Linked DNA regions of Homo sapiens: region 2 is linked to region 1. A link means that fine-mapping ties the variant in region 1 to the expression of a gene that starts in the linked region. Tissue or cell type: whole blood. Region 1 holds a variant in brackets; the other region holds the start of a gene. All regions are shown on one strand. Distances are from middle to middle.

Region 1 (8,109 bases):
CTATCAGCAAATCCTTAATGTAAGCCATACAGGATGCTAGCTGTACTATTAGACTATCTTCTGTAATCTGTGCAATAACTCTAAGAAGCACTTCGCATTATTATTTTCCTGTAACACTTTCCAACTTGAAGCCTAGCAAATTGAAGGACCTGGCCCCAGGTCAAACAGAAGGCAAGCGGCAGCGCCAGGACTGGAAGAAGGCCTTCCCAAAGGCAGACAGAAGCTCACGTCTTTGTCAGAACCTCGGTATTTCTGATGCGCCTGGAAGCCAATATCCAAGCCGTTCTCAGCCACTGGATTGGTGGGCTGCTTTGCTCAGAAACTCCTCGATCAGGAATCCCAAGCATACGTTAGTGATGACGGTCCCAAAACAAGGGACATTTCTTAACCATTCTAAAAACCCGTTTGCTCATCAGTAACGCAATAAGAGTTGCTTTCGGTCTTGGTTCATATATTTTATATTTGAGCAAGGCAATGTCCGCTGCTGGGGTTAGAAGTAAATGGCTCGTCTTCAGCAAACTAGATCAGTCCGTGGGACGTACGGCTTCCACTCGCAGTGTCCTGAACACTGGCTGGGCTTCCTGTGCGTTCTAGCCGGTTTTCTTTGGAGCCGCGGGTTTCTGCACGGCTCCGGGGTCGGGATGGCAGAGGCTTCTCGGAACACGCGGATCTATGAGTGCAGTCCCCGGGGTAGCCACCAGGGAACGCCATAGGCTTTCCCGCTGTGTTCCTCCTTGCCTTTTCCGTTTGGGCCCAGTAGTTTCTATTGACCATGACATTACAGATCAGAAGTGGGTGGGGTCAGAAAGCACACCCTGGGAGAAGCTGGCAAAATGCCCAGAACCGCCATCACTAGGCCTGGGGTTTTCTTCTGTAGTGGAATTCTCGTGCTTATGTAGTACAGGGAGGAGCGCAGCGCATTTCCGCCAAGACAGGTGAGACTGCAGTTCTGACCTGCGGGCCTCGATGAACTGCGTTAGGGCCCCTGGGCGCCGGCAGAGCCGATCTCCTACACAAAGCAAGCGTGTTATGTCTACAACCGAACGGGGACACTAAGAAAGAGCCCCAAAGGCCCTGCTTTCATCCCAAAGAACAGCGCCTGTCTGCGTAGTTTCTACCTTGCTCTATGAGGTGAGAACACCTTCACCGCTGGCACAGAAATCCTACAAACTCCTGTGGGGACCGCGGTTACAAGCAGACGCTGTGTGAAAGGTGACTCTGGGGGCTAGGGAAAAACACGAAGATTTTCACAGAGCGTGAGACCCCAAGAGACTGGAGACCATGGACCAAATTTCTGCGAACAGTAGCCTTATGTAGAAAGAGCTATGCAATCTTCGTGCTAGTTAGCTTGTGATACACATGCTCACAAAGGCTGGCGCTTCCTTCTCCAGCGAAAAGCAAGGCGATATATCACTTCCCGATTCAAAGCATCCAACTGTAAGAATAACAGTGTAGGGAGAAAGGTCTATAGTCATGGCAATATTGCCTAATGATATTTTTTTCTGTGATGGTCATTTTATAATATTATTTAAAAGTTTTTTTTAATTAAACAAGCAATGGAACTTTGAACAGAAAAATATGAAATTAAAACAATAAAAATTACCCATAATCACACTAGACTGTGATAACTAAACTGTGAATATTTTGGTTTCATAAGCTTTTAATCTTTTTCCTTAGGTATATAAAAATATTTAAGAACCAAAGAAAATTATATCACAATGGGTATATCAACTTAGTATCAGTTTTACTCATTTAATATGCCAAAGGTAACCTACTTATCCTTTGACTATAAGAGCTTTCTAAATGTCTGTATAATATTACATCAGATGAATGCAATATAATTTATTTTAAATATTTCTTTTTTTGTTGTTTTTTTTTTTTTTTTTTTTTTTTTGAGACGGAGTCTCGCTGTCGCCCAGGCTGGAGTGCAGTGGCGGGATCTCGGCTCACTGCAAGCTCCGCCTCCTGGGTTCACGCCATTCTCCTGCCTCAGCCTCCCAAGTAGCTGGGACTACAGGCGCCCGCCACTACGCCCGGCTAATTTTTTGTATTTTTAGTAGAGACGGGGTTTCACCGTTTTAGCCGGGATGGTCTCGATCTCCTGACCTCGTGATCCGCCCGCCTCGGCCTCCCAAAGTGCTGGGATTACAGGCGTGAGCCACCGCGCCCGGCCTAAATATTTCTTATTGCATATTTAGATTGTTTCTAATTTTTGAGTATGATCAACAACTCTTTGACCAGTATTCCTATAGCTAAGTGCTTATGTTGTAGGTCTGATTATTTCCTTAGTACAAATTTCTAACAGTGGAGTGTCAGTCAAAGGGTATGTACAATGTAAACATGTAGATGTGTATTGTCAAATTATCCCCCACCAAGTTCCTAAAATATGCATCTTTACTGTCATGGTGTAACTACCAAAGTCCTGTACCCTTGAAAACATAGATTCTTATTTCAGAACATCTTTATCAGTTTAAAAGATAAACTATGCCATCCTCTTGTTGTTAGTAAAGTGCATTTCTTTGATTACTCCCCTTTTACAGAAGAGTAAATGAAGATTCAGTAAGTTTGTGTGAGTTATGCATGGGTGCATAGGTAACGCGTGCAGAAAGCAATCACTTCAGTTTTCCATATTTGAGGTCCTCTCTGGGCCAGTACAGTTCGAGACACTAGAAATTCAAAACCACAGATAATGCCCTCCTGGGCCTGTAGGATGTACTTGTTAGGTGGCAGGGGCGAGGCCCAACCAGTGTGCACAACAATGTCATAGCCCCAGGTGAGTGTGGGAGGGGAAGTTGTAGAAATATTTTCCAGCCAAATAAATCAGTGAAGTAAAGATAGGCAGGAGGCAGGCAAAAAGGAGGCAGGACTGGCAGGTTGTGGGGGCAGGAGTGGCCACGGATGAGGAGCCAGGCTTGGCTACACAGGTGCAGGTGGCACGTGTCATAGGCACAGGCATGGAGATCTGAGGGCGTAGAGGGGAGAAGACCATGCACCGCCAATGTCAACTGTGTGGAAGCAAACCTGGGCTACATCTAAGAGTCCTGAGAGCAGGGGAGGAGAAGGGAGGAAGAGACAACAGAAGTCCTGGGTGGGAAGCAGAAATATTTCCTGAGTCAATGAAAGAGCCCCAAGCCTCCAGACCTGCCAGGGCTCAAGCAGGCAGCTCCAGATGCCAAGACCTATAATCCAGCAGTTCAGGTTGATTTTGCCAGAGTAGTGTGAAGAGGCCCTGATTTTCCCCTTTAATGTATACCCATACAAAAGGCAGAAGAGTTGTTTGAAAAGCAGGAGATTCACAGTTACAAGCACATAGGAAGCACAAGAAAAACTGGTAGAAGGGATCTGGGCCCTTCAATGTTGACAGCCTTCTCTAGGAGCCCTGGCTACAACAGAATGAGAAGGATCCTTGTGGGGTATAAAAAGGTGGGAAGGAGAACAAGCCAAACAAAACACCACCCTCAGGACTACAGAGAAGTTATTTCAGGCGATGCATTGATTCCATGTTTTTGTTTCCATAGGTTGCTGTTTTGTAACTTTTTTTTTCTTTGGT[G/T]AAGGAATTAAGTGTCCTCCCCCACTGTCTGAAGAAAGTTATGCCTGTCATGAAGCGTGCCCTTACTTACTTTGAAGGGGACAAGCCTTTTCTAGCTTCAATATTTATTTCCTATTTTGATGGGGAAACCTTTAGGGAAGTAGAAAGAGAGCTTAAAGCCTTGGGGGAGACATTTTACGTGCTTGCTAAAAAAATGCATTAAAATATTTAGTACATGTCCTGAATGTAACCCAGCCCTCCAGAGCTATTTTTTTCTCACTGTATTAGTCCATTTTCATACTGTAATAAAGAACTGCCTGAGACTGGGTAATTTATAAAAGAAAGAGATTTAATTGACTCACAGTTCAGCATGGCTGGGGAGGCCTCAGGAAACTTACAATCATGGTGGAAGGTGAAGGGGAAGCAAGGCACCTTCTACACAAGGTGGCAGAAAGGAGAAGTGCTAAGCAAAGGGGAAGAAGCCCCTTATAAAACCATCCGATCTTGGGAGAACTCACTCACTATCATGAGAACAGCATGGGGGAAACCATCCCCATGATTCAATTACCTCCACCTGGTCTCTCCTTTGACAAATAGGGATTATGGGGATTATGGGGATTACAATTCAAGATGAGATCTGGGTGGGGACGCGAAGCCTAACCATATCAGGGGAGGGGGCTCACAACTGAATATTTCAGATAATTTTAATATGTGCTGGTATCCACAAACAAGAGCCAACGTGGACTCAGCAGGAAATGTCATGGGCCTTCTGTTTCAAAAATGATTCAGATAGACTTTTATGCTTTTACATGTGCCATATGGGAGTGGGGCATTCTCATCTTGTTCCTTGTTTTACCCTCAGCATCTACCTTTCATAGCAGTAACTGATGATCATGAAATGTTTGTTGATTGAATGGCTGAAGTATAGACAGATGCAGCTTCTGTCCATGAAAGGCATCCTGCTTGCTCCTTGCACTGTGTCCAGTGAAAACTCTTGTTTCTCTGCGCAGCTGCAACACGTTTCACATCACAAGGAGCACAAGGCACTGGCTTCCATTTCCACCCTGAAGCTCAGCAGCCCCATTTGCGTCCCATCAGCTGCCTGCTCCGGAATAGAGGAGGGAAGGGCTGGGCTTCAGAGTTTGCTTTTTTTTCTTGGTTCTGTGAATGGAAAAGGATCCTGTGAAGGGATCCAGATTGATACCTTGGGGTCTGGTGTATGTAGGTCTGTTTGTGTTAACTCACCATTTAAAGACAGAAAAAAGGAAAACATACATATTTATAGCCTCCTAGAGAGAGCCTTGGTGCTAGTTTTGATGGCTTGCTGGGAACACAAGTGAAGTCAAGGGGGGTATTGTGGTTGGGAGCATTGATTTTGGGAGGAAAGTGGTGCTGGTATCATTTAGGGAGGGACAACAAGATGCTCCTGTGGACCACCACTGATTCTCTCACGCTGATGACATCTGGCAGTAGTGACAATGTGATGGGAGCCCAAAGAGGGGAGGGTCTTGTAGAAATTTCACGTGGTTGCATCAACTTCAGCTTTTGGTAACTGGTGGATAGCCAAGCAGCAGGAGTAGGGCAGAATACCATGAGTCCGTGAACCAGGCAGAGAGTTGAATGACATGAACTTGAGTCAGGGAGGAGAAAACTAGGGGCCGGGCACATCTTTGATTAGTGAGTAACCAACAAGGTGGACCCCCAGAGGGCTTAAGGCCCTTCGCTGGAGAACTAGATGGTTATCCCTGGGTCCTGTTATTGAGGCTAGCTTCTCTCAAGTTTCAACGCTAGTCAGACCACCATATCTAAATCATGGAAAGTGTACCACTGGTTATGTTAAGAGGTGATGTTTGAATATTTAGATGGAGATAATCAAAGTATTACAAAAATGACAAAGGATTCAATGCAGTAAACAAGTTAATTTACACACCAGAGTCAAAATTTCACAAATATTATTGCATAGAGTGAAGATAATTTTTTAAAATTTAAATTAATTTAACAAAATAAACATAGTACTTAAATGTGGCTTTTTTGGTTAGATTATTTTCTTATTCAAGATTTTTCCTTTCCTAGTTTATAAGTATTTTGTTGCTATTCTTTCACTCTCTGAAAATTGCAAAATGCATACTTAACTTTTCAAATACAAGTTTTTCCAAAAATTGTATACATCTCCTGAAAATGAGTGCCTTTGAAGATGGCAACTCCATTTCTGCTCCCTCTAATTCATGAGTTATTCTTGACTTGTTTTGTGGAATTAATTAGTTTCATCTTTTTCTTAATGGCAAAAACTACTTGTCATGATTTTTGCATGTTTCCTACCTTCTTGATCCTCATCTTTTTCTCTGATTTAATTACATCCTTTTCTGAGGATATGCTGCAGATAAACTCTCTTTTTTTGTTTGCCCAAGAATGTCTGCATTTCATCCTACTCTTAAAAAGTGGGTCCTAGAAATTCTAGATTGGCAATTATTTTTTATTAGCACTTTGGTGATCTGATTCTTCTGGCATCCGTCTTTCATCATTTCTGTTGAGTAGTTAGTGGTCAATGCCATTCTGCTGCCTTGAAAGTAAGCTGTTTTATTCACTACCTTGTGGATTTATGCATGTGTGTGGTTGTTCTTTGGTTTTACTATTGTTTTTGGTTCGTCCAACTCGCCATGACATGTTCAAGTGTAGTTTTATGTTTGTGTACCCTCTATAGATTTAGGAACTTCCCGTTGGCTTTCTTTTGATGTAGGGTATCAGTCATTATCTTAAAATATTACTTACAAAGGTTTTCTCTGTTCTATGTTCTTTCTCCTCTTTGTTTAGGAATCCAAGTAAAAATATGGTAAAATGTCTCACTGCCTCTGTTTTGCTGTGATGCATTCTGCATAATTTCTTCTGACTGATCTTTGGATTCACTAGTACCTACTTTAGCTACTACAAAATAGTGAACAGCCATTGCATTTAAAAATTTATTTTTTGCATCTTTCTATTTTAGAAATGTTCTTTGTTTCCTTTTTCACACATTCCAGTCATTTAAAAAATATTTATTTTATTTTAGATTCAAGGGGTCCATGTGAATGTTTGTTAAATGGGTATATTGCATACTGGTGGGGATTGGGCTTCTAGTTCACCCATTACCCAAATAATGAATATTGTACCTAATAGGTAGTTTTTCAACACTCACATCCTCTCCCCTTTGGGAAACCTCAGTGTCTATTATTTCCATCTTTATGTCCATGTGTACCAATTGTTTAGCTTCCACTTGTAGGTGAGAATATGCAGTATTTTATTTTCTGTTTCTGAGTTAATTCACTTAGAATAATGTTCTACACCTCCATCCATGTTGCTTCAAAGGACATGATTTCATTCTTTTTTATGGTGGTGTAGTATTACATGATGTGTATATATATCACATTTTCTTTATCCAATCAATTATTGATGGACCCATAGGTTAGACTTAGGTTGGTTCCGTGACTTTGCTATTGTCATGGTATTGTCCTATAATGATTTGTTTTCCTTTGGGTAGGTGTCCAGTTATGAATATTTCTGGGTCAAAGGGTAGTTCTGTTTTCAGTTCTTTGAGATATCTTCATACTGTTTTCCATAGAGCTTGAACTAATTTATATTCCCACCAATAGTGTATAAGCGTTCTCTCTTTGCTCTGCATCCAAGTCAACCTCTGTTTTTTTCTTTTTTCAACTTTTTAATAACAGCCATTCTGACTGATATAAGATGATATCTCATTGTGGTTTTAATGAGCATTTCTTTAATGATTAGTGATTCTGAGCATTTTTTCATGTGTTTGTTGGCTGCTTGCATTTTTTTTTTTTTTGAAAAATGTCTGTTCATGTCCTTTGCCCAGTTTTTAATGGGGTTGTTTCTTTTTCTCTTCTTGAATTCTTTGAGGTCCTTGTAGATTCTTGATATTAGTCCTTTGTCAGAGACATATTTTGCAATTCTGTTTTTTTTTTTTTCAAGCATGGCAAGAAAGATTTTATTCAGGACCAGAGCAATAGTTACAGGGACCACTGAAATGTTGTCTGACAGTGGGGAAGAGAGATTCTATGCTGGTCATTTTTAACAGCTTTCTTTTATTATTATTGTTATTATTATTATTATTATACTTTAAGTTCTAGGGTACATGTGCACAACGTGCAGATTTGTTACATATGTATACATGTGCCATGTTGTCGTGCTGCACCCATTAACTTGTCATTTACATTAGGTATATCTCCTAATGGTATCCCTCCCCCCTCCCCCTACCCAACGACAGCTCGTGGTGTGTGATGTTCCCCTTTCTGTGTCCAAGTGTTCTCATTGTTCAGTACCCACCTATGAGTAAGAACATGCCGTGTTTGGTTTTCTGTCCTTGCGATAGTTTGCTGAGAATGATGGTTTCCAGCTTCATCTATGTCCCTACAAAGGACATGAACTCATCCTTTTTTATGGCTGCATATTTGACAGCTTTCTTTTGCTGAGATTGTTTCAAGTGTGTTCTAGCTTTGGACGTTATGAGAAGAGTTGTTTTACAACATTTTTCTCTGATTATTTTTAAATCTAGGGTCTTTGTAGAACTGTTTCTTTCTCCACTA
Region 2 (8,109 bases), 210 kb after region 1:
TTCTAAATAGGTAAAAGCAATGGAAAGACAAAGGAAAAGAGGAAGTTGCTTATGAAAGGACTTAGAAAAGTAATAATATTCCTGAATAAGGAAGGGGCATAGGCTGTGAGCTGAGACATGCCCGTCAGCACCTCCAGCACAAATATTTTGGTTAAAGTACAAGGACATAGAATGTACTTATTCCTTTATGTCTAATAGCTACATAGGATAGGGCTTAACAGAGAGTTAATAGCACAAAGCAAGGAGGATTGAAGGAAGTTAGTCTTTAAAAGAAACTATTATTTCTAACACTTATGATTTATTCTTTAACAAGAAGGGAAACTCTGAAGAGGAAACTTTTTACTTTCTACACCCAATTATCCTACTCACCGCACACATCCCAAGCTCCAAGGCGTGAACCAGCTGGGCCTGCTCTCTGCTAGGCTTTCCTGACAAAGTAGGGAAACCAGACAGACATGTTGGAAGAAGTATTACGGTTTCATGAAATAGCTTCTTCTAGAAGGCAAGAGATAGCTTTGCTGTGGCTTGATATTTGAAATAGGCTATTTAAAGTCATAATTTTTTTTTTTTTTTTTGAGACGGAGTCTTGCTCTGTCACCCAGGTTAGGGTGCAGTGGCGCGCAATCTCGTCTCACAGCAACCTCCGCCCCCTGGGTTCTAGCAATTCTACTGCCTCAGCCTCCCTAGTGTCTAGGATTACAGGCGCCCACCACCACACCTGGTTAATTTTTGTATTTTTAGTAGAGACGGGGTTTTGTCATTTTGGCCAGGCTGGTCTCGAACTCCTGACCTCAAGTGATCCACCCGCCTCGGCCTTCCGGAGTGCAGGGATTACAGGCGTGAGCCACTGCGCCCGGCCAAAGTCGTAATTATTTTAAACAGAGGCTTTCACGGGACTTCCAAAGCGCACCTTGTTCTTTCCGGCTCATTCCCCCTTCCCCTCTAACCCTTCACTTTCACTTCTCTGACTGGATGCACTGTGCGGAGGACACAGCTAAGGGCTGTGAAAATTCAAGAATAAAGAAAAGTCCTGCCTTCACGCAGCTCGCACTGTGAGGAGGTTTAATCAGGGATGGTAATTCAAAATAACTCGTGTTTAATCACCAGTGCAGATGGTGTCAGTAAACCTGCCTGGGGCGCTGCTTCCCAACCCCCGCCAGGGCCTGCGCCCTGCAGCCCACCGGAGGCGTGGCCGGAGGGCAGGCGCCAGGGCGGAAGGCGGGGGTCGTTCTAATTCCCTGGGGGTAGCTAATGGCCATGCCTGGAGGCGAAGCTTTTCAAAATGACTAACTTGGAAAACCGCCAAAGACAATGGAATCTGGCAGAACTGTGGGGAGCAGGAATCTTAAGCGTTTGCATGTTGTTGGGGTAGCAGGGGCTCAAGAAGGGGATGCTCAGGGCAATAGCTTTTTTACTAATCTGTAAGAAAATGTTCCAGTATTTTAATAGCTGGTACAGCCATACTGATGCATACAGTCCAGATCGATAGATATTGGTCCAGATACAGTGGCTATCTGTTCTTTTGCCTTCCAGGAGCACAGTTTCTCAGAAGAAATGTTTTTTCCATGTATATAATCATGTAATTCAAACAGGAGCTGCAGTTTACTTGCAGACCTCCTAAGTGACAGTGTTTGGTCTGGGGGTAGATACGGGCCACAAGTTGCTGGGACTATTCTTTATTCGTCCTCATTACTTAGCTTAGTGTCTGGTATAGAATTAGGCACTCGATAGAATTGTTTAAGAATGAATGGACACAAACCTTTAACTATTGCTTCGTTTGATCTCACTTGTAAAATTTCTGCAACTGTGTGACTGCTGTAATGGAAAGTCTTATCCTGTTTAGGCAGCTTAATATAAGTTGGTTTAGATATGTGCATTTCACGATTTCTTTGATAAGTTTCAAGAATTTGCTGGCAGCTGTAACTATGACGTTCAAGGCTTATGTTTACTTTTTTTTTTTTTCCTAGTACAACATTTACAAACTCCAAGAATTTTATCCATTTCAGAGGTGGTTGTCAGATTTAGGGCAAAGGACATATGTGGGCTTTATAAATTTTAAAGTTCGGTACAAATGTTTGTTGATACTCTTGTTTAATTAAATGTAAAATAGTTGAGAACCTTCCATGTACTTACTGATCACAGTGTTAACCATTATTACACAGTACTGTATTGCTCCAAGAATCAAAGGGCAGCAGCTCAAAGACAACACTTGGATGTGAATGAGATGAAGCTGATCAAGTCAGAAGGAAAAGGAATTCAGATGCCAGAGCTCCCAAGGTCTGAATAGTGGGCAGTTTCAAGACAACTCTAGTTTTCTCCTGATGGCTGAAATTATTAGCAGCCTAAGATCACTATCCTTTTCCTGGAATCAATGTGTTCGAAGGGTGCCAGAGTCATCTAGTGTGTTTACAAAGGATAAAAGTAAGAGGTGTGAGTATGAATGTTGTTGTTCCAAGAAATAATTGCTCCAGGGTGACTCCATGCTTTTATTAGTTTGCGTGTGTGTGTGTGTGTGTGTGTGTGTGTGTGTTTTGGTTTTTAAGTAACAAACTAACTCAAAGTAGCCTAAGCAGGATAAAGAGGGAATTTGTTATAAAGAAGCAATAGTGTTTGATAGAACCCAATGGCAGGAATGTGTATGGGCCTTGGGAGGAGCCTAGAGTCAGGAACTGAAAAAAGATGTGGATTCTTGCTCCGAATTTGCTTCTCGGCACACACCTGCATTCTTCTCTCTCTGCTTCTCTAATCAACATGGCAGTCTGTATCCTTAGTTAAAATATTTGTAGCATTAATTCCCCATTACTCAAATGACCATCATTTGAGGCTGTGGAGAAGGCATGTCCTTGTTGAGTGGAAGGAAGGGAAATTAGAACAACTTATATCTATGGGCTATTTTAAATGTAAGGTACTATGATTCTACCAACTTAGACTCCCATATACACAAGGATTCACTTCCATTCCACTTTCTGTCTCTGTTAATAGCACAATTTTTTTTGTCTTATTTATTGTAGTCCTTCATCTTTCATGTGGAGTCAATCACTAGGTCTTATTGGGTTTTGGTCTCAAAAGTCTATCATTAAATAATATTACTTTTCTTAGCAGCATAATTCACAATTGCAAAGATGTGGAACCAACCTAAGTGCCTGTCAACTAATGAGTGGATAAAGAAAATGTGATACACACACACACACACACACACACACACACCATGGAATACTACCCAGCCATAAAAAGGAGTGAAATAATGTCTTTTGCAGTAACTTGGATGGAGCTGGAGGCCATTATTCTAAGTGAAGTAACTCAGGAGTGGAAAACCAAAAACCGTATGTTCTCACTTAAGTGTGAGCTAAGCTATGAGTACACAAAGGTATACAGAGTGATATAATGGACTTTAGAGACTTAGAAGGCGGAGGGTGGGAAGGGACCTAGGGTTAAAAAACTACTTATTAAGTAAAATGTACGCAACTCAGGTGATGGGTGCACTAAAATCTCAGCTTTCACCACTATATAATTCATCTATGTAACAAAAACCCACTTGTAACCCAAAAGCTATTGAAATAAGAATCTTTTTAATAAAGAAAATGCCACACAAAAATAATATTGGTTTTCTTCTAATCCTGAAGGCCAATATAAAAGGTAACAAAAGCCTGAGCTCTTTAATTAATGGGTACAAGTTAAGACAGAATCACATCAGGATTTGAAGTTGAACCTGAGCTCAAATCCTGTTCCCATCACTGCTAGCTCTCTGAGGCTTTCCTCTCAACTACAAAGTGGAGATATAATACTAAACAAGCTTACTGGGTTGCTTAACTAATATCTAGAACATACTTAACAGTGTTTCTATTAATGCGAGAACTAACTGTAAGCACTTAGTAAAGAGTAGTCATTATTAAGCAATGATAAATAAAAGCATTTGTATAATTCTTTTTTTAGCTTTTGAAAGCCTTGCACCTAGATTTTCTCATCTAATATTCATTAAAACCCTGAAAGGCCGATCATATCCCCACTTTAGAGATGGGGACACCAAAAAACAAAGAGATGGGAACACCTAGATATATCAGAGATCCTAGTTTTTATTTTATTTATTTATTTATTTATTTTTTTTTTTTGAGACAGAGTGTCGCTCTGTTGCCCAAGCTGGAGTACAGTGACGCAACCTCGGTTCACTGCAAGCTCCGCCTCCCGGGTTCACGCCATTCTGCCTCAGCCTCCCGAGTGAGTAGCTGGGACCACAGGCGTCCGCCACCGCGCCCGGCTAATTTTTTTGTGTTTTTTTAGTAGAGACGGGGTTTCACCATGTTAGCCAGGATGGTCTCGATCTCCTGACCTCGTGATCCGCCCGCCTCGGCCTCCCATAGTGCTTGGATTACAGGCGTGAGCCACCGCGCCCGGCCTGATCCTAGCTTTTTGTAGGTGACTGACCTAGGTGGTACAAGATGTCCTGTACTTGTTCATTTATTCACACATACAACACATATTTATTGACTTCTTACCATAAACTGTTTAAGGAGCCTGGTGGGGATACCGCATAAACAAACAAGCAAAAATAGACAAAAATCTTTGTCTAGAAATATATAAATATAGAACATTTTATAGAATATATGACATAGAAAACAGAAAAAAATAAATATGAAAATAGCCTAATTTTCAGGGTTTTCCTTTTTTTACATACCCTTCATGGTTAACGGTTAGTGGTTAATGGGGATTACCCATTAACTCCCACCCTCCTTCCCAGCTCTCTCCCAAGACTTAGTTTCAGGAACTAGAAAATTCTGATTCAGCTTGGGTGCAATGGCCGCTCAAAGGGCGAGGCTTATTCGAAGCCTCAAATTCAGAAAACCCAGCCAGACCTTGGAAGTTAAGAAGGTGGAAGGCAGATCGCGGAACCAGTGTTCTGATAGTTGTGGTTCTCTGAGGGAAGCCAATTCTGGGGACCGGTAGTGGAAAGCTCTTGCGCTGTTTCCGGCCACCTCAGCGGGAAGCGGAGACGCAAGCAGCTGGATCTCCGGTAACTGAGACATAGGGTATAACTGTTGTCGCGGCGGAGGAAGTGAGGACGGCGCCAAGGGCCTTCCGGGCCAGTGTTGGATCCCTGTAGTTTGTGAAGATGGTGTTGCTAACAATGATCGCCCGAGTGGCGGACGGGCTCCCGCTGGCCGCCTCGATGCAGGAGGACGAACAGGTGAGCTGCTTACTCACGACCCGCGACCCCAAGTCTCTGTCAGCGCGCTTTGCCCTCAGCATCGGATTCCTTCCTAGGACCGGGAGACCTTTGTGACTTCCCGGGCACTCCCGACCTCTCTGAAGTGCGCTTTTATCTTTTGGTGTAGGAGAGACTACCGGCGAAGAGGAAATCTTTCCTGAAGGAGGAGTTAAGTTTTTTGTGTTAGCTGTTTCTCTTTAGAAAAACGCTCTGGAGAAGTGGTAGCTTTGGTTGATTGTGATCACCCAGTGTTCTTTGACTCTTTAGGGACTTTGTTAAAATTCAGGATTTCTAATTTTCTGCTGCTAATAGGACTGCTGATGGATAAATCCTGGGAAAAAATCAGCCAAGTTCTTCAAGTCTATAACGTGGCACCTGATCCTTGACCTAGCTTGCTGACATCTTTTGAAAGTGGGTGAGGTAATATTGCCACATAAAAGCACCTGTTAAATTTCAGTACATCACATTCTTTCAGGATTATCCCCAGTTCCCACCTTCTCCAATACGCCGTACCACATTCCTGCAATACATTGTAACTTATTTTTTTCTTTGTCTTTCAATAACTTGAGTTTCCTAGCGGGCAAACGACGGGTCTTAATCATCTCTTTGTTATCCATACCTTTTACAATAGCTGCTTTATGCTAGTAGGTGCTCAAAAGTATACTGAATTGATTAAAAACAGCACTAACTCCAGATGTCTTAAAAGAAAGATGTTTTGTGTTTTAGAAACACAGTGGAAATTTCTGAAGTAAGACAAGTTTCTGGAGCAAGCTTGGGAGGTTCTGAAGACAAAGCTGAGAATGGAATTTATATAATTTGTTTAAAGTGATCAATTTTATTTTACTTTTCCATACAGTCTAAGTAAAACCTTGAGCCTTAAAAAAAGATGAGATATTGAAAAAATAGTTTGCACATTTCTTCTGTTGGACTTTTCATTCATATATTAATGCAAAAAATTTTTACTGAGCACATCAAATGTGCCAGGCATAGTGTTAATGCAGGGAGTTAGAGTACACAGTCTCTACCTTTGTGGAGCTTACAGTCTAGTGGAAAAATCAGATAACCAACAAACTATTAAAATGTAGTTTAACTGCTAAGGAGAAGGAAGAGGGTTTTGTGCTTGAACATGGAAAATATATCTAAGTTGGTTTTAGGAAATCAGGAAAGTCTTCCCAGAAGGTATGACACTAAGGTAACAGTAGGATCCAGTAGTAAGGAACTATTATTCTATTTGGTTATATGCCTTTTTAGGTTTGATTTGGAAATATAGTTACTTTCACTTTTAGGAGAGTGGTGATACAGATAATAAAGTTGCAGGTCATGCTAAGTGAAATATATTCTATTCATTACATAAAAACAAAGTCTAATCTTTGAAATAAACCGTGAACAATTTAACATACCCCGATTTGCTAATGTGAAATGTTTTTCAGGAATACTCTAGGACCATCCTGCAGAAGGAGTGTAATTGTTCAAATGAACCTAGGAATATGATTTGAACAAAGTAGATAGTGCAGGGGAATATCCTTGAAGGATGTGTAGTTTGACTAAAAAATAGTTTTCCTACAGTGGGTGGCTGTGTGTTGGGGGTAGGGGGGATGGAATCTGGTCAATTTTTAAATTATTGCATTGAATTCCAGTGTTAGCAAAGAATACAAAGTGAACTTGAAAGTCTACTTAATATTAGTGGCCCCTACTCTCTGCCATGATACTTTATTGAAAAATTAATTGATTTATTGTTTTTTAATTATAAATTTGGTATTGGTTTCATATTGGTTTATCAAGATGGGATGCTTTGTTTAATTGACAAGGAAAGAAATTTTACACACAAATATTTTTGTGATTGTAGTGCCATAGTATTTTCCTTTAGGAATTTTGACTTTGAATAATAAAGTTTGCCTAAACTTTTAATGTCTGTAAAGATCTGAATCTTAGGCTTACTTTTACTATTTTAATAGTATACAGAACATTTATAAAAGCGCCTACTACATACCAAACACTGTGCTAAGCCTATTAAGTTCATTTTTTTATTTAATCCTCATACTACCATATTAGAACAGGTACTATTAAAATCTCCAATAATAGATAAGGAAGCTCTGAGGCTTAGAGAGGATAGATCACTTGCCTAAATTCACAGCTAATGAGTGGCATAATGAAATTTTTCATCAGGGTTTTTCCCCTTGGCACTGTTGACATTTGGGGATGGATAATTATTTGTTCTTGGGGACTGTTCTGTATATTGTGTAGGAGGTCCAGCAATATTCCTGGCCTCTACCCTCTAGATGCCAGTAGTACCACTACCCTTCCCCACTTTGTTTGTTTGTATGACGACAAAAATATTTCTAGACATTGCTAAATGTCTCATGGGGGCAAAATCACCCCAATTGAGACCCAGTGGTTTTTATTAAGTTTTTGTCGACTCAGACAAAAACTTAATAACCACTGTACTTTAGTGCCTAACCACTGTACTTTACTGCCTTGTTCTAAGGCCTTTTAATGATGTCTTACCTCTTAGGAGTCCAGGAATAACTTTTTAATAAACAGATATCTCAACCAAACAGTTTTATATTTAATCACCTTAATTGTCCAGGCCAGATAATTCAATGTATTTTCATTTTTGTATGTTTTTGTTTTCTTATCAGTGTACTTTCAGTATTTACACTGATAATAGATATCATATTTTAGGTATTTACTAGGTGCCTGTACAAGCTGCCATATTACCGAAGATGGACAGTTATTCAGATAATACAATAGAGAGTAAAATTTACAAAATAATGTAGACAGAGTATTTTATACAGGGTGTTTCCTCTGTGTTTAACTGAAAATTTAGACTTAGGGCAGGAAGAGAGATGAGCTTTTCTTCTCAAATGTGGACTCCCTAACTGATACCCTGTTTATCTTTTTTCCTC

The links. PIP is the estimated chance that this variant, and not a neighbour inherited with it, causes the effect.
Region 2: SEC22B starts here. The variant in region 1 is fine-mapped to the expression of SEC22B in whole blood (TOPMed, PIP above 0.99).

The regions. Positions count from the first base shown.
Region 1 is chr1:120,381,612-120,389,720 of GRCh38, reverse strand. No RefSeq gene overlaps it. Among named protein-coding and RNA genes, the nearest start is that of NBPF8, 29 kb to the left of the region's middle. The variant G/T (reference allele first, on the strand shown) is at 3,551.
Region 2 is chr1:120,173,380-120,181,488 of GRCh38, reverse strand. SEC22B (SEC22 homolog B, vesicle trafficking protein) reads left to right here and starts at 4,969. Exons shown (of 5, transcript NM_004892.6): 1 at 4,969-5,182. The coding sequence starts at 5,108. RefSeq lists enhancers at 4,808-4,937, 4,716-5,281, 4,978-5,347, 5,282-5,847.